Homo sapiens: one gene and its partners. The protein of the gene in region 1 purifies or fractionates together with the protein of each later gene. This does not show direct contact. Each region holds a gene or a part of one and is shown in the gene's direction. Other genes may lie near its edges. The genes, in order: DPH7, RALGAPB and RALGAPA2.

Evidence for each region.
Region 2: the proteins of DPH7 (region 1) and RALGAPB purify together in Homo sapiens (affinity purification with mass spectrometry; 2 studies listed by BioGRID and IntAct, with this or other methods). This does not show direct contact.
Region 3: the proteins of DPH7 (region 1) and RALGAPA2 purify together in Homo sapiens (affinity purification with mass spectrometry; 2 studies listed by BioGRID and IntAct, with this or other methods). This does not show direct contact.

Annotation. Positions count from the first base shown.
Region 1 is NC_000009.12:137,561,486-137,569,540, reverse strand, and holds part of DPH7 (diphthine methyltransferase), read left to right. Parts: intron 1-4,386; coding exon 4,387-4,456; intron 4,457-4,582; coding exon 4,583-4,648; intron 4,649-4,934; coding exon 4,935-5,107; intron 5,108-8,055.
Region 2 is NC_000020.11:38,524,019-38,532,073, forward strand, and holds part of RALGAPB (ral GTPase-activating protein subunit beta), read left to right. Parts: intron 1-759; coding exon 760-927; intron 928-1,385; coding exon 1,386-1,500; intron 1,501-1,876; coding exon 1,877-2,024; intron 2,025-7,148; coding exon 7,149-7,213; intron 7,214-8,055. UniProt on the Homo sapiens protein: Non-catalytic subunit of the heterodimeric RalGAP1 and RalGAP2 complexes which act as GTPase activators for the Ras-like small GTPases RALA and RALB.
Region 3 is NC_000020.11:20,702,077-20,710,131, reverse strand, and holds part of RALGAPA2 (ral GTPase-activating protein subunit alpha-2), read left to right. Parts: intron 1-8,055.

The DNA of each region.
Region 1 (8,055 bases):
TGGTAGATTGTTGGATGGAAGGTGGGAGGGCGGGTGGGTCGATGGATGGTGGATTGTTGGATGGATGGATGGATGGATGGTGGGTGAGTGACTGGCTGGCTGGATGGATGGATGGTGGGTGGATGGATGGATTTTTGGATGGTGGGTGGTGGGTGGTGGGTGGTGGATGGATGGTGGATTGTTGGATGGATAGTGGGTAGATGGATGGAAGGTGGGTGGGGGGTGGGTGGGGGCATGGGTGGATGGATGGTGGAATTTTGGATAGGGTGAGGTCGGGGGGTGGATAGATGGTGAGATGGATGGAAGGTGGGTGGGTAGTGGGAGCTGGATGATGCAGGGGTGGGTGATGTGGTTAGGCCTAGACGTTTTCCTTCTGATCTTCTTCACTCTCCCTGTGGGCCCTGCTCTTGAGCTTCCCTTCCTTCAGGTGCCACCATTCACCCCATGTCTGCATTGCTTTTCTTGGAAGATTGGTTGTGGTTCAGTGCACCAACTCCTCTCTTCTCCCATCCTTTTCGTTCCCCTAAACAAGTGCTTTAAGATGACAGAGGGCACCTTCCTTTCAGGTGCATGGTGTGGAGTCCTTGTGCTTGCTGCCTCCTGTGTGCAGTTTCTGTTCAGGGCTCTGATCTGGCAACTCTTCTTCTTAGAAGCCAGGGCTTTATTCACTGGAGCCCTTAGCAAAGGCAGTTTAGCCCCTAGGACCTAGTAACGGCCCCTGTGAACAATGGTCGCCTGCACCTGATGGCCTTCAGGGCCCCTTCAGTTTCCATTTCCTCCCTTCTGTTCCTGCAGGCTTCTTTCTGTTCCCGTCCGTCTTTCCCCTCCTGCTTCCAGTCTCTAGAGAGTCAAGGCACAGTGATGACTTTCCTGGGGGTTGTTTCTGGGACCTCCTGTTGAGGTGGCAACCTAAGACTCCTCCAGCAAAGTCACCAGGGGAACTTCCTCACAGACAGAGTCACCCCGGGGAGCTTCCTCACAGACAGAGTCACCCAGGGGAGCTTCCTCACAGACAGTCACCCAGGGGAGCTTCCTCACAGACAGAGTCACCCAGGGGAGCTTCCTCACAGACAGAGTCACCCAGGGGAGCTTCCTCACAGACAGAGTCACCCAGGGGAGCTTCCTCACAGACAGAGTCACCCAGGGGAGCTTCCTCACAGACAGAGTCACCCAGGGGAGCTTCCTCACAGACAGAGTCACCCAGGGGAGCTTCCTCACAGACAGTCACCCAGGGGAGCTTCCTCACAGACAGAGTCACCCAGGGGAGCTTCCTCACAGAGTCACCCAGGGGAGCTTCCTCACAGACAGAGTCACCCAGGGGAGCTTCCTCACAGACAGTCACCCAGGGGAGCTTCCTCACAGACAGAGTCACCCAGGGGAGCTTCCTCACAGACAGAGTCACCCCGGGGAGCTTCCTCACAGACAGAGTCACCCAGGGGAGCTTCCTCACAGACAGAGTCACCCAGGGGAGCTTCCTCACAGACAGAGTCACCCAGGGGAGCTTCCTCACAGACAGTCACCCAGGGGAGCTTCCTCACAGACAGAGTCACCCAGGGGAGCTTCCTCACAGACAGAGTCACCCCGGGGAGCTTCCTCACAGACAGAGTCACCCCGGGGAGCTTCCTCACAGACAGAGTCACCCCGGGGAGCTTCCTCACAGACAGAGTCACCCCGGGGAGCTTCCTCACAGACAGAGTCACCCAGGGGAGCTTCCTCACAGACAGAGTCACCCAGGGGAGCTTCCTCACAGACAGAGTCACCCAGGGGAGCTTCCTCACAGACAGAGTCACCCAGGGGAGCTTCCTCACAGACAGAGTCACCCCGGGGAGCTTCCTCACGGACAGAGTCACCCCGGGGAGCTTCCTCACGGACAGAGTCACCCAGGGGAGCTTCCTCACAGACAGTCACCCAGGGGAGCTTCCTCACAGACAGAGTCACCCAGGGGAGCTTCCTCACAGACAGAGTCACCCAGGGGAGCTTCCTCACAGACAGAGTCACCCAGGGGAGCTTCCTCACAGACAGTCACCCAGGGGAGCTTCCTCACAGACAGTCACCCCGGGGAGCTTCCTCACAGACAGAGTCACCCAGGGGAGCTTCCTCACAGACAGAGTCACCCAGGGGAGCTTCCTCACAGACAGAGTCACCCAGGGGAGCTTCCTCACAGACAGAGTCACCCAGGGGAGCTTCCTCACAGACAGTCACCCAGGGGAGCTTCCTCACAGACAGAGTCACCCAGGGGAGCTTCCTCACAGACAGAGTCACCCAGGGGAGCTTCCTCACAGACAGTCACCCAGGGGAGCTTCCTCACAGACAGTCACCCCGGGGAGCTTCCTCACAGACAGAGTCACCCCGGGGAGCTTCCTCACAGACAGAGTCACCCAGGGGAGCTTCCTCACAGACAGAGTCACCCAGGGGAGCTTCCTCACAGACAGAGTCACCCAGGGGAGCTTCCTCACAGACAGTCACCCAGGGGAGCTTCCTCACAGACAGAGTCACCCCGGGGAGCTTCCTCACAGACAGAGTCACCCAGGGGAGCTTCCTCACAGACAGAGTCACCCAGGGGAGCTTCCTCACAGACAGAGTCACCCAGGGGAGCTTCCTCACAGACAGAGTCACCCAGGGGAGCTTCCTCACAGACAGTCACCCAGGGGAGCTTCCTCACAGACAGTCACCCCGGGGAGCTTCCTCACAGACAGAGTCACCCCGGGGAGCTTCCTCACAGACAGAGTCACCCCGGGGAGCTTCCTCACAGACAGAGTCACCCAGGGGAGCTTCCTCACAGACAGAGTCACCCAGGGGAGCTTCCTCACAGACAGAGTCATCCAGGGGAGCTTCCTCACAGACAGAGTCACCCAGGGGAGCTTCCTCACAGACAGAGTCACCCAGGGGAGCTTCCTCACAGACAGAGTCACCCAGGGGAGCTTCCTCACAGACAGAGTCATCCAGGGGAGCTTCCTCACAGACAGAGTCACCCCGGGGAGCTTCCTCACAGACAGAGTCACCCCGGGGAGCTTCCTCACAGACAGAGTCACCCCGGGGAGCTTCCTCACAGACAGAGTCACCCCGGGGAGCTTCCTCACAGACAGAGTCACCCAGGGGAGCTTCCTCACAGACAGAGTCACCCAGGGGAGCTTCCTCACAGACAGTCACCCAGGGGAGCTTCCTCACAGACAGAGTCACCCAGGGGAGCTTCCTCACAGACAGAGTCACCCAGGGGAGCTTCCTCACAGACAGTCACCCAGGGGAGCTTCCTCACAGACAGAGTCACCCAGGGGAGCTTCCTCACAGACAGTCACCCCGGGGAGCTTCCTCACAGACAGAGTCACCCAGGGGAGCTTCCTCACAGACAGAGTCACCCAGGGGAGCTTCCTCACAGACAGTCACCCAGGGGAGCTTCCTCACAGACAGAGTCACCCAGGGGAGCTTCCTCACAGACAGAGTCACCCAGGGGAGCTTCCTCACAGACAGTCACCCAGGGGAGCTTCCTCACAGACAGAGTCACCCAGGGGAGCTTCCTCACAGACAGTCACCCAGGGGAGCTTCCTCACAGACAGAGTCACCCAGGGGAGCTTCCTCACAGACAGTCACCCCGGGGAGCTTCCTCACAGACAGAGTCACCCAGGGGAGCTTCCTCACAGACAGAGTCACCCAGGGGAGCTTCCTCACAGACAGTCACCCAGGGGAGCTTCCTCACAGACAGTCACCCCGGGGAGCTTCCTCACAGACAGAGTCACCCCGGGGAGCTTCCTCACAGACAGAGTCACCCCGGGGAGCTTCCTCACAGACAGAGTCACCCAGGGGAGCTTCCTCACAGACAGAGTCACCCAGGGGAGCTTCCTCACAGACAGAGTCATCCAGGGGAGCTTCCTCACAGACAGAGTCACCCAGGGGAGCTTCCTCACAGACAGAGTCACCCAGGGGAGCTTCCTCACAGACAGAGTCACCCAGGGGAGCTTCCTCACAGACAGAGTCACCCAGGGGAGCTTCCTCACAGACAGAGTCACCCAGGGGAGCTTCCTCACAGACAGAGTCACCCCGGGGAGCTTCCTCACAGACAGTCACCCAGGGGAGCTTCCTCACAGACAGTCACCCAGGGGAGCTTCCTCACAGACAGAGTCATCCAGGGGAGCTTCCTCACAGACAGAGTCACCCAGGGGAGCTTCCTCACAGACAGAGTCACCCAGGGGAGCTTCCTCACAGACAGTCACCCCGGGGAGCTTCCTCACAGACAGTCACCCAGGGGAGCTTCCTCACAGACAGAGTCACCCCGGGGAGCTTCCTCACAGACAGTCACCCCGGGGAGCTTCCTCACAGACATCAACGGCCTAACTGAGAACACTCATTTCCTGTCATTAGTGGTGTTGATGCTTCTCTTTCTCCACACAGGGGGCGACGATGGCCTTCTGAGGGGCTGGGACACCAGGGTACCCGGCAAATTTCTCTTCACCAGCAAAAGGTAACTGCCCAAGGGCCAGCACTCGGTGCCCACACCAGCCCCCGCGTTCCCTGGGTCACCAGCCCTCCCGTTCCCTGGGTGGGTCTGTGTGCTGGACACTGGTTCAGAAGCCGCCTCTGCTTGCAGACACACCATGGGTGTGTGCAGCATCCAGAGCAGCCCTCATCGGGAGCACATCCTGGCCACGGGAAGGTGAGTCCCCAGGAGGCTCTCGGGCCCTTCTCGTCTCTTTCGCTGTCCCCGGGGGGCTCCTGGGCCCTTCTTCCCTCTTTCGCTGCCTTTCCTCCTGGCACCATTGCAGCATTTCGTCTGCCAGTGCTTCGCCGGAGTGTAGGTATATGGGTTTGGTAAAGGGGACTTTGTCCTCGAGGGATGCATGGGACAGGTCTCTGGGAGACGTTCTGTGCCCCCCAGGGGCCTTGTGGAACAGGTGAGCCTGGGCTTTCCTTATATGCCTCCTGTGGTTGGTCGGTTTCAGCTATGATGAACACATCCTACTGTGGGACACACGAAACATGAAGCAGCCGTTGGCAGATACGCCTGTGCAGGGTGGGGTATGGAGAATCAAGTGGCACCCTTTCCACCACCACCTGCTCCTGGCCGCCTGCATGCACAGTGGCTTTAAGATCCTCAACTGCCAAAAGGCAATGGGTGAGTGGGGACCCGTGGCTGCTGGGCCTCAGGGCAGGGCACCAGTTCCCTGCCCCCTCGCTCTGCTGGGCTCTTCCCTCAGCTCCCTGCTCCCTTGCTCTGCTGGGCTCTTCCCTCAGCTTTTACACACTCCCAGCGTCGCGCCCTAGACTTGGTCGTGATCCATAACTGTCCCAGCTCCAGAATCTCTGCTCTCTAACCACAGTTTTCCCTGGTTTCCCAGCTCCGTCATTCCGGTGCCTCCTGCATTTCGGCAGACCTCTGACCCCACTGGGACCTCTAGTCTGGAGGCTTGGCCACCCATCACTCCCATAACCATCCTTGTCTGTGCTCTCCCATGCTCTTCCTGCCTGTGGTCAGCTGGGACTCTGTGGTCTGCTGCCCCCTGTGAGCTCACACTCCATTCCCTTCATCCCTTTCTCACACTCTGGGCAGAACCCAGTGTTGTTTTGTTGGGAACAAGCACCTCTGATTCTGGTTGAGCCGGAGAACGTGGCTGGAATCAGCTGTCCACGTTGTGTTCTAGTAGGTCCCTGGGATTCCTGGTGATCTGTAACATTTCTCTAGGCAGTAATCCCCCACTGTCAGAACTGGTTCACATTTTCTTCTCTCTGCTCAAACCTCCAGGACCTCCTCTTCCCTCCTGACTTGCAGCTCATGATCTCTCCTCTTTCGCCTCTTCTCTCTCCCCTCACTCCAAAAATAAGCAATCACAAAACCACCTCATCTTCCCACCATTAAGCCCACCAGCCTCTCGGGCCACCCACATGCTCTCTGCCCTCTGCAGCGGTGGGTGACCCACACCTGTTCCCAAGGCCAGTTTCTTCTCTGCACTGGATTGTACTCAAGGACTTGATTGACTCGATTTCCGCATGGTATTCCTCTTTTTTTTTTTTTTTTTTGAGACGGAGTCTTGCTCTGTCACCCAGGCTGGAGTGCAGTGGTGCGATCTCGGCTCACCACAGCCTTCGCCTCCTGGGTTCTAGCGATTCTCCTGCCTCAGCCTCCCAAGTAGCTGGGATTACAGGCACCCACCACCATGCCTGGCTGATTTTTATAGTTTTAGAAGAGATGGGGGGTTCACCATGTTGGTCAGGCTGGTCTGGAACTCCTGACCTCGTGATCCGCCTGCCTTGGCCTCCCGAAGTGTTAGGATTACAGGCGTGAGCCACCGTGCCTGGCCTGTATTCCTCTGTGTTTTGCATCTTTAGTTTCTCCATCTCTTCTGTATTGTTTCTGTTAGTTCTGTGAATGTGCTTTGTATTTCTCATCGTTTTTTGTTTTGTTTTGAGATGGTGTCTTGCTCTGTCACCCAGGCTGGAGTGTGGTGGTGCAATTGTAGCTCACTGCAGCCTCAACCTCCTGGGGCTCAAACCATCCTCCCATCTCAGCCTCCTGAGTAGCTGGGACCCCCATGCCAAGCCATAATATTTCTTGTATTAAAACAATTTGAGATCTTTTTTTTTTGAGATGGAGTCTTGCTCTGTCACCCAGAATGGTGTACAGTGGTGTGATCTCGTCTCACTGCAACCTCTGCTTCCTGGCTTCAAGCAATTCTCCTGCCTCAGCCTCCAGAGTAGCTGGGATCACAGGCTTGTGCCACCACGCCTGGCTAATTTTTGTATTTTTAGTAGAGACGGGGTTTCACCACGTTGGCCAGGCTGGTCTTGAACTCCTGACCTCAGGTGATCCGCCCACCTTGGCCTCCCAAAGTACAGGCATGAGCCACCGTGCCCAGCCCCTGGGCTCAAACCATCCTTCCACCTCAGCCTCCCGAGTAGCTGGGACCACCATGCCCAGCCATAATATTTCTCATCTTAAAACAATTTGAGGTCTTTTTTCTTTATTAATGGTGATACATTTTCCTCTGAGCACTGCTTTTGCTGCAACCCATACATTTTGGTATGTTGTATTTTTATTTTCATTCATCTCAAGGTACTTTCTAATTTCCCATGTGGTTTTTTTCTTCGACCATTGGTTATTTATGAGTGTGTTGTTTAATGTACATGTTTTTAAGTGCCCACATTTCTTTCTGTTACCGATTTCTAATGTTATTCCATTGTGCATTCCTGTTGAATTTACTGAGATTAGTTTTGTGGCCTAGAGTGTGGTCTCTGCTGGGGAGTGCCCCTGTGCACTTGCGGACGTGTGTTCTGCTGCTGTTGGCTGGAGTGCCCTGTAGGTGCCTGTGAGGTCTCGGCTTTATAATGTTCAGATCTTCTGGTTCCTTACTGAATCTCCTGTCTGGGCAATATTGAAAGTGGTCTGTTGGCTGGGCACGGTGGCTCACGCCTGTAATCCCAGTACTTTGGGAGGCTGAGGTGGGCAGATCACAAGGTCAGGAGATCGAGACCATCCTGGCTAACATGGTGAAACCCCGTCTCTACTAAAAATACAAAAAATTAGCCAGGCGCTGTGGTGGGTGCCTGCAGTCCCAGCTACTTGGGAGGCTGAGGCAGGAGAATGGCGTGAACCCAGGAGGCGGAGCTTGCAGTGAGCCGAGATCGCGCCACTGCACTCCAGCCTGGGAGACACAGCGAGACTCCATCTCAAAAAAATAAAAGAAAGTGGGCTATTGCTACCTCCAACTCTAACTGTAGAATTATGTATTTCCAGCCTCGTTTCCATCAGTTTTTACTTCACGTATTTTGGGGATCTCTTTTATATATGTTTATAATTCTGGTATCTTCCAGATGTGCTGACCCTTTTATCAATATAAAGTGTCTGTCTTTAAATCTAGTAACATTTTTTGTTTTAAAGTCAGTTTTGTCTGGCATTGGTAAAGTCACTTCAGTGTGGCGTGATGCATCGTTTTCATTCTCTTTCAGTTCACACCTGAGTCTGAGGCGAGTCTTTGGTATGGGGTCATGCTTTTTTTTTTTTTTTTTTTTGAGATGGAGTCTCGCTCTGTCACCCAGGCTGGAATGCAGTGGCGCTATCTTGGCTCA
Region 2 (8,055 bases), on another chromosome or scaffold:
CCAGTAGGTGATGAAGTTGTTTCTGAAGAGTTTTGCAGAGAAGAGAAACTCACCTCACAATAGAAGAGTATAACAGTGCAGCTGCTGTTGAATAACGGGAGATTGAATGCTTAGTAAGTTGATTAGAGGTTGGGGGTGGAGTTAAAAACTAAGCTATATTCAGGTATATTCCTAAAAGGAATCTTATTCAGGTGACCTTCATGATGAATACAGATGATCGAATGCAGGTTTCTTTCTTTCATTGTCCCCCCAAAAATAATGGGGAAGGGACAAAAATGTAAACACACCTTTTTCCCTAGGAATTACTAAATGTTGCAACATTTTTCTCTTACGGAATTTAACTCAGCAGTTCCCCCAGTTTATTGAAAAGTACTGCAGCCTGTTGTTTTGTTTTGTTCTGGTTGCCTTATTTGCAGGCCCCTAGAACTTTGAGTTGCAAGGCTTAAGGTTTGAGAAGGTGCAACAGACATGAATTTTTTTTTTTCTTCATTAAGAAAGATGATTTGGGTCTTAGTGTATATGATTCAGAATTGTTCTAATTCCAGTAATATCCTTTAAAGGGTAAAATTCCAGTAATTCCAGTAATAACTTTTAAAGGGTAAAATTCTAATAAATTCCAGTAATTCCAATAATGTCCTTTCTTTAAAGGGTAAAAATAGTGATGAGTGGAAATAGACTTTCAGTTAACTATGTAGCAAATAATAATTATGAAAACTTTTGATCAGCAGTTTGTTTAAAATTTTTTTCTTGCTTTCCTAGATTTTACATGCTTTTAATTCAAGGTTTGCAGATAAATGATTATGTGTGCCATCCTGTCTTGGCCAGCGTTATTCTAAACTCTCCTCCTTTGTTCTGCTGTGACTTGAAAGGGATTGATGTTGTGGTTCCTTACTTTATTTCAGCTCTTGAAACCATTTTGCCTGACAGGTAAGCTATCATTCTCTGCTATTATATCAACTGTCTGATTTGGCCTGGTCTGTTGGTGCTTCCTCCCCAGTTTCCTAATGTATCCTGTCCAGTTGTCTTCATAGTCCAAGAGAACTCAGGCGACATTAAATGAGTGTAGTGTGTCCAAACCCACCTCATCCCTGAAATCCTTCAGTTCTCATTTGTCTGTGGGCTTGTTGAATCGTTTTTGGCCTGGTCTAGAAGGGTAAGAACAACTCCAACACAGAGGTCTTACCTTTGTAGAGTAGGCCTTACGTTTTAGGTAAAGAAATCAATCAATCAACTTCTAGTTTAATTCAGTAACAGTTTAACTTAGAAATATACAATATACAAATACACAATGCTTGGATTTGGAAAAATTGGCATTATATGTATTTGGCAGTAGCTAAAAATGTGCTTTAGTTCAAAAATACTAATAGCTTTTTATTTTTTGGCAGAGAACTCTCAAAATTCAAAAGCTATGTAAATCCAACAGAATTGCGAAGATCCTCCATTAATATCCTGCTTTCTTTGTTGCCCCTCCCTCATCATTTTGGCACAGTCAAATCTGAGGTAATGTTTTGTTAAAGTTTTTTTATATCCTATATTCTGTTTTTTGTACTAATTTAAGTCAAATCGAATGTTAAAAATGAAACAGGAGCTTTTTTTATTTTTCAATTCAAGTTATTTCATCAAGTTATTTCAAGTGAATTAACAAAGTTGACTTGTGATTTTTTTTTTTTGTTCTGTCAGTTTTTCTACCAGTTTTCAAGCAGTTATAGGCTAAGGACATCTATTAACATATTGTTAGTGACAGATTCAGCACAGTGGCTAATATTAGACTGAAAGCCTTTCTCATTATACTGATCCGTTCCTCCATCTAGCTGTTCCCACATGGGCATCATAAGCTGCAACAGCTGATGTTAAATATTATTTGTTTTTTCCATAGGTGGTCCTGGAAGGAAAGTTTAGTAACGATGACAGCTCTTCTTATGATAAACCAATAACTTTTCTGTCCCTGAAGTTGAGACTTGTGAATATATTAATAGGTGCCTTGCAAACTGAAACGGACCCCAACAACACCCAAATGATATTAGGTTTGTATTCACACGTTATTTTGTAAGTGAAACCAAAGTACTGTTGACTACAGGCCTGCTGAGGAGGCGGCAGTCGGTAATGGGAGCCTAAACCTAATGTAGCTCTACTTACTCTGAATCAGAGGCACAAGTTAGTTTTTTAATGTAAAAAAATTTAAAGCAGTGAGATGAGGGAAGTAAAGTGTTACAGTTGTCTTGGTTGGTCATTTATTTGTGCTTTTGCTTTTCTTTCTCTTCTCCCTTCTCTCCTTTCTCCACTCTTTGCCTCTCCTTCCCATCCCTCTCTTCTTTCCTCCTTTCTTCCTGCTCTCCTTCCTCCTGCCTCTTTCTCTTCCTCCCGCCTCGTCCTCTTCCTCCTGCCTCTTCCTCTTCTTCTTGCCTCTTCCTCTTACTCCTGCCCATTACTTACAGGTCTCATCAGTCTGCACTTTCGTCCTAGTCCTTTTTTTCTCAAACACATCAGCTAATGATTTCTTCAGAACCTTACTTTATATCCCTCCTGCTGGGGTGTTCTTTCCCTAGATTTTTGTTTAGCTTTTCTTCATCATCTTCTTAAGAGAGAGCTTCCCTAACAATACTTGCTAAAGATTATCTTATTTCATCATTTTTTTCACAACACAAAACCTGAAATTATCTTGTTTGCTTAAATGCTTAAACTCCCCGCTTTTTACATGTTTTTCAAAATATATCATAAGGTATTTGGTGATTGACAAATCTAGTGTTAGCACTAAGGGACAGTCTTATCTCCCTGAAAATCTTCAGAGAGACCCTGATGAACAGAGGAGCTCTTCTTTTCTTCCTCTAATCTGATGTTCAAATTGGGTAAACAGCAATGTATTACATTTGAAAGCAAAGGGTTTTCAGTTGTTGCTTCTGTGTCTCAGTGCCACTAAAGTGCAATCCTGGGTATTGAGATCACCACCCTTGACAGTGGAAGCTCTTAGGAAAGTAGGGCTTTCCTCAGCCACCTAACAGGAGTCCCCACTGAACCATGTGAATGCAAATACCATCCCAGCCCACAAACCTGGGTGGCAGTTAGAACTCCCCGCTTATGGAGCAATTGATCTCTGAGGATGACTTGACCTTGGCAGTGGTTAGAGGCTTTCTTTCTTCTCTTCATTAGCAAGACTAGAATTCAGCTTCTTCCTAGCATCTTAGATTTTTATCTGTTCAAAAGTGGGATCAGACATTCCCTTTAAGCCCTTATGCCCCCAGAGGAGGTGGGGTGTATGTCCTTCCAACAGGAACACAATCCTTGAAATGGTTTCTAAAAGGCCTCTAAAACTGAGGGACAGATCCTGAAGAGATGGGTCACAACGGCCAAGAACCATATTTATCCAGAGACACCTAATTAGTAGGTGACTGGAGTTGTCTGTAGCTGGGCAAAAAGTTTTTTAGGGTTTCGTAAGTCTCAAAAGCCATTAATTGTGGACATGATTTTCTAGACTCACAAATGGAGTTTTTTGCTCTTTACATTCTCAGTTATGATGTATAGCTATATTCTTGTTCAGGCTGGGCTTTTAGAGACCTTCTGAAGTTAATGTGGTCAGTCTGACCAAGGTTTGGAACCAGAGTCTACCAGTGGCATTGATAATATCTCAGATACATTCTGAACACAGAGGGTGGTTTATGTGGAGGGGGATGTTTTGATATGTGAGAACCTCCAAGTTACAATGTTTTAGGTTATTTAAATAACATAATTTTGCTTGAAATTATATAATTTCTACGATTGAAGCAGTATTTGGTTTTGTTACACCCTTGCTCTGAGGCACTCCCTATGTACTTTCCAAGGAAGAGTCAGTTGTTACTCTTGCCATAAAGTGGCAAAGCTCTTTCCATCTTCTCTTTATCCATAGTGGGCAAGAGTACCTCCCACGGGGATGAGAAGCAGTGTGTTAGGCTCACCATCTCATTTCTGTCCTAGCCTTTCCAGGACAATGGTTTCCTTGATAATAAATAAATGAAGCTTACTTCAGGGTATGCAGATGTCAACAAGCCCCAGACTGTGTGGCTTTAATCATTCTTAAAAAGCAGTGTGGTCAGAAAGCTATTGCTGTGACTTTATTTTGTAATTTTTGTTTTATTTATTTGTTTCTTTTTCCCTGTAGAAAAAACAGACAGTAATGTTTGTTTTATTTTTAAGACTAGAACCTAGTTTTGAAAGTATTCCATAATATTTTCCTTAGTTTATATTACCCTTGAAATTGAGATGCTTACATCTGGTCTTTTACACCAGTTAAAAAATATCTGATAATGAGCATGTTTTTATATAAAGCAAGTTTGACCTTCACATTCATTTTATTTTTATTTATTTATTTATTTATTTATTTATTTATTTATTTATTTAAATACAAGTTCTTGCTCTGTTGCCCAGGCTGGAGCGCAGTGGTGCAATCATGGGTCACTGCAGCCCAAGCTCCTGGACTCAAGTGATTCTTCTGCCGCAACCTCTGAAGTAGCTGGGACCACAGGCGTGTGCCACCACACCTGGCTAATTTTTTGTTGTTGTTAGAATAGGGTCTTGCTCTGTTGCCCAGGCTGGTCTCGGACTTCTGGGCTTCTCCAGTCCTCCCTCCTTAGCCTCCCAAAATGCTGGGATTACAGGTGTGAGCCACTGTGCCTGGCCCACATTTATTTTAGGGAATTTTTTTTTTTTGAGATGGAGTCTCGCTGTGTCACCCAGGCTAGAGGGCAGTGGCATGATCTTGGCTTATTGCAACCTCTGCCTCCTGGGTTCAAGCAATTCTTCCACCTCACCCTCCTGAGTACCTGGGATTACTGGCACCCGCCACCACGCCCAGCTAATTTTTGTATTTTTTAGTAGACACAGGATTTTACCATGTTGGCCAAGCTGGTCTTGAACTCCTGATAGCAAATGATCTACCTGCCTTACCCTTCCAAAGTGCTGGGATTATAGGCATGAACCAATGCACCTGGCCAGAATTAAGGAATTTTTAAAGAGTCTCTTCTGACCAATCAGTGGATTTATTAGTAGAGTTGACCCTTGAACAACATGGGTGTTAGTGATGCCAATTCCCTGAGTAGTTGAGATCCACATATAACTTTTTGATTCCCTAAAAACTTAACTACTGATAGCCTACTGTTGACCAGAAACCTTACCCATACCAGTTGATTAACACATATTTTGTATTTTATGCATATTATTAATATATACTGCATTTTTACAATAAAGTATGCTGGAGAAAAGAATATTTTATTAAGAAATACATGTTGTAATCCCAGCATTTTGGGAAGCTGAGGTGGGTGACTCACGAGACCACCCTGGCCAGCATGGTGAAACCCTGTATCTACTAAAAATACAAAAATTAGCAGGGTGTGATGGCACATGCCTGTAGTCTCAGCTACTTGGGAGGCTGAGATAGGAGAATGTTTGAACACGGGAGGCGGAGGTTGCAGTGAGCCAAGATCATGCCATTGCACTGCAGCCTGGGCAATAAGAGCGAAACTCCGTCTCAAAAAAAAAAAATAAAATAAAAATAAAAATAAAGCTTGGGCGTGGTGGCTCATGCCTGTAATCCCAGAACTTTGGGAGGCCGAGGTGGGTGGATCACGAGGTGAGGAGTTCAAGACCAGCCTGGCCAAGATGGTGAAACCCCGTCTCTACTCAAAATACAAAAAAGAAAAAAAAAATTAGCCAGGCGTGGTGGCAGGCGCCTGTAATTCCAGCTACTCGGAGGCCGAGGCAGAGAATTGCTTGAACCCGGGAGGTGGAGGTTGCAGTGAGCCAAGATCACGCTACTGGACTCCAGCCTGGGTGACGGAGTGAGGCTCCATCTCAAAAAAAAGAAAATCATAAGGAAGAGAAAATACATTTACAGTACTGTATTTATTGATACCATAAATTGTCTGTTTATAAGATAAATCGTCTCAACTGTTGGGCAGTTGTAGCTGTAGACCCCAATCTACAGTACATATCAAGCAACTCAGCTTTTTCTTGTAATGTCATGACTTTTCTCTGCTTCTTGGGAGCACTTCCAGCATCACTAGTGGCACTTCCTATGGGTCCCATGGCGTTAGTCAAGGTTCATGGTGTTGCAGTAAACATGATGAAAACATGTGAGAACCATGGTATGCAATTTACTGCAGTGTTCAGTCTGTTAGAGAGATGAACTACTCACATGGAGATGGTTAGCATCACATTGTATTTTAAGCAGCATACTCATTAACACTTGAGCTCACCCCAGTAACAACAGGAGGAGGCTACAAAATGATTACAGTAGTGCAGTATGTACTACAGCTAATTTTATACAGTTATTTAATACTACATCTTTGTTTACATTTCTCTGGACTGCAAATGGCATCATGTATGGTCTGTAAGTGTTTGTGTACGTAAGTTTTTTGATAAATTTTAGCTTTTTATTTTTTATTTATTTTTAGAGACAGGGTCTTGCTTTGTTGCCCACTCTGGTCTCAAACTCCTAGGACTTCAAGCAATCCTGCTGACTCGGCCTCCCAAAGTGCTAGAATTACAGGCATGAGCTAGTATGCCCGGCCAATTTTAACTTTTTATACTTTTTTAAATATTTCTTTTCTTTCTCTTTTTTTTTTTTTGAGATGAAGTCTCGCTCTGTTGTCCAGGCTGGAGAGCAGTGGTGCAATTTCGGCTCACTGCAACCTCCACCTCCCAGGTTCAAGCAATTCCCCTGCCTCAGCCTCCTGAGTAGCTGAGATTACAGGCGCACACCACCATACCCGGCTAATTTTTGTATTTTTAGTAGAGATGGGGTTTCACCATGTTGACCAGGCTAGTCTCGAACTCTTGACCTCCCGCCCCACTTCGGCCACCCAAAGTGCTGGGATTATAGGCATGAACCACTGTGCCTGGCCATTTTTTTTTTTTTTTAATATTTCTAGGCTATGCAGTTTGGGAGTTTTTTCAAATTGTCACAGATCTCCAAAAAACTTTCTAACATGTTTATTGAAAAAAACCTGCATATGTACAGTTCAAGCTCTTGTTTAAGAGCCAACTATAATTTCATGGGTATTTCAGGAATGCTCAACCAAAATTATATTCTTATCTGTACTATTAATCATATAAAATGTCTTACGCATTTTAGTGTTCTTGTGTATTTTATATAAAATACTGTTTTATTGTTGTTGTAGGGGCAATGTTAAATATTGTTCAAGATTCAGCACTTTTGGAAGCCATTGGTTGCCAGATGGAGATGGTAAGAAGCATACATGCAATCTGTCAGAGAATATCACTTTTGAATTTCATGTAAATTATATTCCAGAATGTCCATCTTTGTGAATTTTAAAGGCCTTTGGTTTGTAAATCCTGCTCATTGGCTCAGAAGTTTTCTTTTTAAAAATAATGTATATTTTGAGGTTTGCTTTTCAGTGCCTCTTCAGCTGTACATCAGGTTCCCGAGATATTCTGTATGAGAGAAACTACAGCTAAATCCAGTCTTTATTCCTGAACAGTGTCTGCTTAAAACTGTTACTTGTTTTGCTGTGGTGGCAAACTTGGTTGAATAACCTAGGAAAAGCCCTAGCCAGCAAGCAACTAGTTTAACTTTTTCTTACCCATCAATTCTTTCTAACCCCTCTAGACCTAAGTTTGCAGGTCCCTCAAAGCACCAATGCTTCCAAATCAAAAATGCTTCTCAGAGACTTCCAGTGCTCTCTGCTTTGTCTTCAAGATATATCATCCCTATACTTGGAGTATAGGCAAGACAATGGAGGGGTTAATAGGGTATACTGGGGTAAGTTGGGTAGATGTAGTAAGCTGAGTAGATGTAAGATGGGTGATCAAATTATTATTACGGAAATTACATTCGTGTCTCAGTAGATGGTGAATAATAATTTACTGATCTGAATATAATGAACTGTGTTTATATGGGGAAAAATGAGGGAAGTCTAACAGATAGGTTTATTAGCCCCTATACATACGGGAGTTAAAACTAACCCTAGTATTGTTTGTGTTTTCTGATATAACTGTATTTGAAAGTTGCCGTTTGTTTATTCATGCCTTTTTGTTTTTTGTTTTGTTTTGTTTTGCTTTGGTTTT
Region 3 (8,055 bases), on another chromosome or scaffold:
GGGTATTTGCAGCCTGTCCCTGCCGCCTGCAGCTTCATGACTTGAGCTAGTTACGTAGCCTGTCTCTGAACCTCGGTTTCTTTGCTCTGTAAAATGGGTATGGTAATGTTTGCTTTTTAAAGGATTATTGTGAGTATGATGAATAAATGACTTCAGCTTGAAGTAGGCCTTTAACAGTTTCTTTCCCATTACATATCTCCCACCATTAATAGGATAGGACCAGTATTTTGATAGGTAATTTTTCTCCGTCTTTCTTATTTTTGATAATAGTGATGAATTTGTTCTCTTTTCCTAAAAAGTAGTCTGTATTTAAAACAACTGGGTGAGAAACATAAAATTAGCTGTGGAAGTAGAGTATTTCTTAGTATCATGGTAATAACTCCAATTTGGATGTAGATACTTTCACCTGGCTATAGACTGGTCTGGTATGATTAACTTTATTTTACAGAGGGGTAAGCTGAGGCACAGGCAGGCTTGACACGTATCAAGCCATGTAGCAGACGGTTTACTTATGTTAGAGGAAGAACGAAGAGCTGTTAGGTCCTGTGACTTCCAGTTCTTCCTACACTGTTGACAAAACAAAAACCAAAAAACCCTGTGTATTACCATATTGCTCCAGCAAAGATTCCATGTCTTTTTTTTAACAGGATCTTTGCTCTGTTGTCCACGTTGGAGTACAGTAGTTTGACCTTGCCTCAACTGCTGCAGCCTTGGCCTCCCTGGCTCGAGTAATCTCCCACCTCAGCCCCTGGAGTAGCTGGGGCTACAGGCATGTACCACCACACTAGGCTCATTTTTGTATTTTTTTTTTTTGAGATGGAGTCTCACTCTGTTACCCACGCTGGAGTGCAGTGGTGCCGTCTTGGCTCACTGCAACCTCCGCCTCCTGGGCTCAAGCAATTCTCATGCCTCAGCCTCCTGAGTGGCTGGGATTACAGGTGTGTACCACCATGCCTGGCTAATTTTTGTATTTTTAGTAGAGACAGGGGTTCACCGTGTTGGCCAGGCTGGTCTTGAACTCCTGGCTTCAGGTGATCTGCCCGACTCGGCCTCCCAAAGAGCTGGGATTACAGGTGTGAGCCACCATGTCCGGCCAGATTTTTGTATTTTTTGTAGAAGACGGGGTTTTGCCATGTTGCCCAGGCTGGTCTTGAGCTCACAGACTCAAACGATCCTCCCACTTCAGCCTCCCAAAGTGCTGGGCTTACAGGCATAAGCCACCATGCCTGGCCAGATTCTAATTAAAAGTTGAGTGCTTACTATGAGTCCTAAATTAGGATATAGAACTGGCATTGATGTAGTGAGAAGAATAGATACAAAATAATAGTAAATTTATGGTGTGTTATGTAATTAGATGGTCAGGTATATGGTAGAATCCATTATAGGATTTCAGAGAACAAAAGAGATAATTAAGAATGTCATAAAAATAGGGGCATCTTTAAGGAGATTTGTAGTAGTCTGTTCTCACTCTGCTAATAAAGACATACCTGAGACTGGGTAATTTATAAAGGAAGGAGGTTTAATTGACTCACAGTTCCACATGCCTCGGGAGGCCTCACAATCATGGCAGAAGGTGAATGAGAAGCAAAGTCATGTCTTACATGGTGGCAGGCAAGAGAGCTTGTGCAGGGGAAATCCCATTTATAAAACCATCAGATCTTGTGAGATTCATTCACTACCATGAGAACAGTATGGGGGAAGCCACCCTCATGATTCAATTATCTCCACCCGGCCCTTGACATATGGGGATTATTACAATTCCAGGTGAGATTTGGATGGGGACACAGCCAAATCATATCAACGTTTTACTTACGCTGGGTTCCAAAGAATGGTTAGACTAGTTCTGTCCAATAGAGATATAATGTAAGCCACATGTGCAATTTTAATCTTTTTTAGTGACCACATGTTAAAAAGTAAAAAGAATCAGGTGAAATTAATTTTAATAGTGCATTTTATTTAACTCCATGTATTTAATATATATTATATCTGCAGGTAATCAATATAAAATGCTATCAGTATTTTTTACATCTTTTTTTCATATGAAGTTTTTGAAATTCAGTGTATATTGTATACTTACAGCACATATCAGTTCACACTAGCTGTTTTTCAAGTGCTCATTAGCCATATGTCACTAGTGGCTGCACACTGGACATAGCAAGGTTAGAATCTGGGAAAGTAGAGGGGAAGGTCAATTACAACCAGGGGAAGATGGAAGAGCTGGTGGCAGAAGTAACATGACAGTGATGGTAAGTAACATGGCGAGGTGTGGTGTTGGGCACTGAGGACCCTTGCCCAGAGGATGTCCCCAGTGTCCTGCATAGGCCAGGGGTAGGGTAGGTTCCTGGGGAAGGAGTGGAACAGTAGCCTGACAAGCAGAAGCTGAGGCTGGCTGGGGGATCAGAAGCCAGACTCAGGTCAAATCAAGTGACCTGGGTTTGGACCAGAGAGTAGAGAACCGTCTCTCACAAATGCTGTATATACAAACAGAGCAAAACATAGCATTGTCGTATAGTTCCTTTTGTGCATATGTTGCTCATGTTGCTCTAGGTAGGAACAAATTGACTTACAGTTGTAACTGTTGTCTTTATTTTATCATTAGCATTTTTGATGTTTTGTTCCTCTCATTTTTAAGTACAAACATTTGTTGAGACCATATCCCATAATTTAGCTTACCATTTCCTGGATTGTGAAATTTTGTTCTTTTCTCTCCTTCCTTCTTTCCTTTTTTTTCTTCCTTCCCTTTTCCTGATAGAAGTAATACTGCAGTAAACATCTTGAGAAGCAGCTTTTTCGATATTTCCTTAGATTTTATTGAAGTAAGATTGCTGGGTTTGAACATTCGATGACTTGTTTCACAGTGCTTTTCTAAGTGTTGCTCCATTGGCCCTGCTAGCAGCAAGGATTGAGGCTGCCATTTTCACTGTAGTCTGACTACCAATAAACACCTTTTTATAATTTGATAATTGGTGGTAGGTATTTGGGATAATAGGAGTGTCATCTACAGAGTGAGAACAATTGGGAAGGGGGAAGGGATCCTGGGCAAGGACGGGGAAGATGAGTTTGGTGTTCTACATGTTGAGTTTAAGAAAAGGCAAGATCCAAGTGGCGTGTCTGGGGGGTTGTGGGACATGGGATCTGGACCTTAATGAAATGATAGAATGCTATCATATATTTAGTTTTATTGGTTATTATCATCATGACATCATTGAATCTTTTTGCAACTGTGACAAAGGAAGTGTTCCTATCCCCAGCTGAGGAAACTGAAGCTCAGTGAGAATAGCTACTTGTCTGCCAGCAAGTGGGAAAGCTGAGACTTATCTGATTATGAAGGCCATGTTATGCTTCTGCTAGTTATCTGATTCAAAAGGAAATTTACATATCAGAAAATGTATTTATCTAGTAGAATGAATGATAACATAGAAACAAAATCACAACAGTTTTTGCATGCCTCCCAGAAATGTTGCTGTGATATTGGCCTCTCTCTTTCTGGTCCATTTTTCTGCATTTTTCTAGGGAGACTTGGGATTATCATATTTGATTTGAGCATGGGCAGACGATAAACAATCTCCTCCGGTGTTTTAGTGTTCATTGCCTTCCCTGTAACCTTGGCAGGCCTAGCAGGTGATAAATATTTGCGTGGACATTAATGCCACGTGGACATTCTACAACTAGAACAAAGCTGGGAGGTGTAATTTCAAACTCTTCAGGCAGTCTTAGTATGGTCTCTCTCTGTTGACCTTATTTGGTACAAAGTGATTTTGTCGTAATGCTTCCTTTGCTGTTTTTTCATCAATTACATTTATAACCTCTAGAATGTAAATGGAACTTTGGACACGTATATGTAGCACAAATACACCATCCATCCCTCTAAGGCTTGAGGTTGTCTAGACTTCTGATGTGAGAAAAGTGAACACAGGGTAAATGTCCAAACTCGTTTAAGATAACTGAAAAAGGTTGGCTTCCATCTTTTACTCTGAGAAGGGAGATAATTGGTAGGTCTAGAATATTTTGCTGTAAACTTTTATAATTTGGATTTTTATTTTGTAAGTACTTTATTTGTGGACAGGCATAATACTTTTACTAGGTATGTAGAGTACTGATTTTTGGTTACCAAACGGGGTATCAATATAAAACTATAGAGAATTTTTTATTTAGAAAAAACCTTGGCGGGGTGCGGTGGCTCACGCCTATAATCCCAACACTTTGGGAGGCCGAGGTGGGCAGATCACGAGGTCAGGAGTTGAAGGCCAGCCTGGCCAACATGGTGAAACACCGTCTCTAGTAAAAATACAAAAATTAGCCAGGGGTGGTTGCGCGTGCCTGTAATCCCAGCTGCTCGGGAGGCTGAGGCAGGAGAACTGCTTGAATCTGGGAGGTGGAGGTTGCAGTGAGCAGAGATCGCACCACTGCACTCCAGCCTAGGCAACAGAGTAAGACTCTCAAAAACAAAACAAAACAAAACAAAACAACAACAACAACAAAACTTGACTTTCAAAATAGCAAGTTGTTTCAATTTGAATTTTAAAAATTTTTTAAAAGAAGGCATATAAATTATTGTTCTGTGAAATTAAGAATAACGAATATAAGGTATTAAACAACTATTCTTGTACTTGAATTAAAAAAAAATCAAGCTGGGTGCAATTGCTCATGGCTGTAATCCCAACACTTTGCTAGGGTTAAGTGAGAGGATCAGCCCAGAAGTTCAGTACTAGCCTGGGCAATATAGTGAGACCCCTTCTCTACAAAAAAAATGAAGAAATTAGCTGGGTATGGTTGCATGTGCTGTGGTCCCAGCTCCTCGGGAGGCTGAGGCTGGAGGATCACTTGGGCCCAGAAGGTCAAGGCTACAGTGAACCTTGATCATGCCACTGCACTCCAGCTTAGGTGACAGAGCAAGACCCTGTATCAACAACAACAAAAATCAAGTCACAAACATTGTTTTAAAGACTGTGTGAGTGCATGCCTGATATAAGTAAGTCTGTGTTTGGATGTTAATAAGGCACAAGCCCAGGATTTATGGTTTGGTAGGAGAAATAGCCATGTAAACAATGAAATTTACCGTGAGGGTTTTGAGTGGCACAGAGGAGTGTGGTGGAACCATAGAGGTGGGCACAGGTGCAGAGGAGGAACAGCAGCAAAGCCTCCTGGAGACACCAGCCAGTGCTTCTTTAGGGAGCTTAGGTCTGAGGTAGGTTTTGAATAATGGATAAAGGATTTTACCAGATGGACAAGTTGGGGATGAGGGTTCTGTAGAGAGAGGAGCTTGTGCAAAGGTAATGGTGTGTAGCACCATGGAGTTAAGTGCACAATGGCTTTTATCCTGTGGCGTAAGTAGATGTTGGGACTCCAGTGAAGGGTTTTAAGCAGAAGAGGAGCCACATCCTATCTCTTCCCATTTAGTGTCTGAGAATCCCATTCTCCTCTGAGATTTGAAACATAGATGCTGGGAGAGAGAGAGCTCCCTTCCTTTGGATTGCAAGCCCTGAAGATATAGTCTGGGCTGCTGGCATTTGTTTTTCCCACCATGTGGGGAGCATGTGCCTTAAATTGAATCCTACTCTCAGAGGGAATGACAATAGAGAGGTGGAGAGTGAGAGGAAGCCCATGAGTCCTGAGTTTGGCCATGTCTTTGCCAGGACCTTCTTGAGCTGCTCAGTTGCAGGAACTGGTAACATGTTAACTAGCTTGAGTCATATTTCTGGGTCTTGGAGTTGAAAGAGTACCTAACATGGAGGTGTTTGTGTATATGGAGATTTGACTTTTATATTTTTTTAGAACTGGAGGAATTTGAGTTTATATAGGAGAAGTAGCTAATGAAGAGCAAAACTGAAGAAACGGGGGATAATAATGCAGAACGGTGTGATCTGCAGTGAGACTGAGAGCCTGGGGTGGGAGATCAGGCTTAACAAGAGGGACACCTCTTCCTCTAAGGCCACTTGAAAGAAGCAGGAATGGGGTGCTAGATGATGGGGACATGGAGGGAGTTCTCACACCATGGCTTCTGTACCCTCTGTGAAGGTAGCAGGTGAAGTCATTTGCTGAGCCAGTTTTCTTACTCATGTGGTGATAGGAACTTGAATATGTCTTGCTCCCTCTTCTGTGCCACATAACCTCTTAAAAAAAGGACATCTGTTATCTGGAAGGCTTTGTTTTTTTTCCTTAGGGAGTGACTGAAAAATGCATTTAACGTTTATGTTAAATATTCATCAAGAAGGCGGAAAATCTATATAGAATGAGGCCAGTTTAAGTAGCACAGATGTTGTGTGCCCTTCCACTCAATGAACATGTGCCCTAGAGTGGACCTAAGGTGGGACATAGGAACCCGCCATGTCGTCCATAGTCTTCTTTCCTTTATGCCTTTCATTGTGAGAACATCCCCCTGCTGGGTATGACTCCAGAGTTAAAGGATCATTTTAATTTTTTCTACTTTTGCCTTTCTTGTGACTTAACCGCATATAAAATGTAACTCTGTTGATATCTCATGTTCATGTACCAGTTTACACTTTTGCAAAATGTCTTCTCATAGTCTCATTTAATCAAATTACTACCTTAAGCAATCAGTTCATATTAATTATAAAAGAAATTTATTAAATATCTATTTGTGAATGTATTTTAGGTGGTCTCTAATACAGGTTATCTTTACATAGTTAAAGCCTCCTGGATGTGTCAATACAAATAGCATTTTCAGGTGAGAGGATCCAGAATCCGCTAGCAAAATCTAGCAATTGAGAATTTGATAAAGTTAAAATAGGAATTTTAGAGAGATTATGTCATTTAAAGGATTTACCATATAGATTCTTAGTAGATTTGTTTCTGAGTTCATTCTGAATCCTCAATTCAGGGTTTTAGCCTTAATTTTCAGAAAAGTGATGTTTCATAACCATTTTATGTCTTTTATGTTGTTTTAGAAACTGAAGCCACAGCTATTTTAAAAATAGTTGTAATCTCTTTTTTTTTTTGAGATGGAGTCTTGGTTTGTCACGCAGGCTGGAGTTCAGTGGTGCAATTTCGCCTCACTGCAACCTCTGCCTCCTGGGTTGAAGTGATTCTCATGCCTCAGCCACCTGAGTAGCTGGGATCACAGGCTTGTGCCACCATGCCTGGCTAATTTTTGTGTTTTTAGTAGAGACAAGGTTTTGCCACGTTGGCTATGCTGGTCTTGAAATCCTCGCCTCCAGTGATTAGTCCGCCTCGGCCTCCCAAACTGCTGGGATTACAGGCCTGAGCCACCATGCCTGGACAAAGTAGTAATCAAATTTTGATATTACAATTATGGTTAAGTTAAAAAAATCCCTTTTGATAAAGTTCAGGAGCCCATGGATATTGTGTTTGATTTCAGGTGATGACACATATTCATTGAACCTTAACCATGCCTGAAAGTACAAGCATGGTACTTGTGACATTGCTTGTGCCTGACTATGAGAGCCATAAGAATGTGCTGCTTCTCCTGTTGTGGGGAGCATGATTGACTGATGGCCCCAGCTGCTGCTCCCTGAATCTACCAATTTTGAGCCAAAGCTTAGTTTCCCTTGGGAAGCTCTTAGCCCATTACTGAGCACTGCAGGAGTATTAATGCTGCCTGTTCCTGCACACTTCAGATGCCTCTGAAGGGCCACTTTGGCTTGAGGACTTCCTATTGGCCTAAGACCTTCTCAGACCTATGTTGAAGTCTGACACTTCCTACTCAACCTTCCTTCATTCCCCTTCTCCTTCCCAGGGGTCAGACCTGCATCGTGGTCTAAATCCTCTCCCTGCCTTCACCAGCTCCTTCTCATTTATCCTTCATGGGCATTTACCCCAATAAATCTCTTGCATGTCTAATCCTGTCTTGGCCTCTACTTCTCAGAGAACCCACACTAATCTACCATCCATTTCCTGGATGGTGTTGTCCATCCTGCCATCTACAGTTTTTCCAGGAGACATTGCCAACACTTTTTATCTTCCATGTGGGCTTTCTTCATCCTCTTGCCCTGAATGTATCTCTTCTCAGAATTCCCACAGCACTTTGTAGCTTTTGTTTGGTATTAATGGCCTTTGGCTTTGCACCATGCTTCT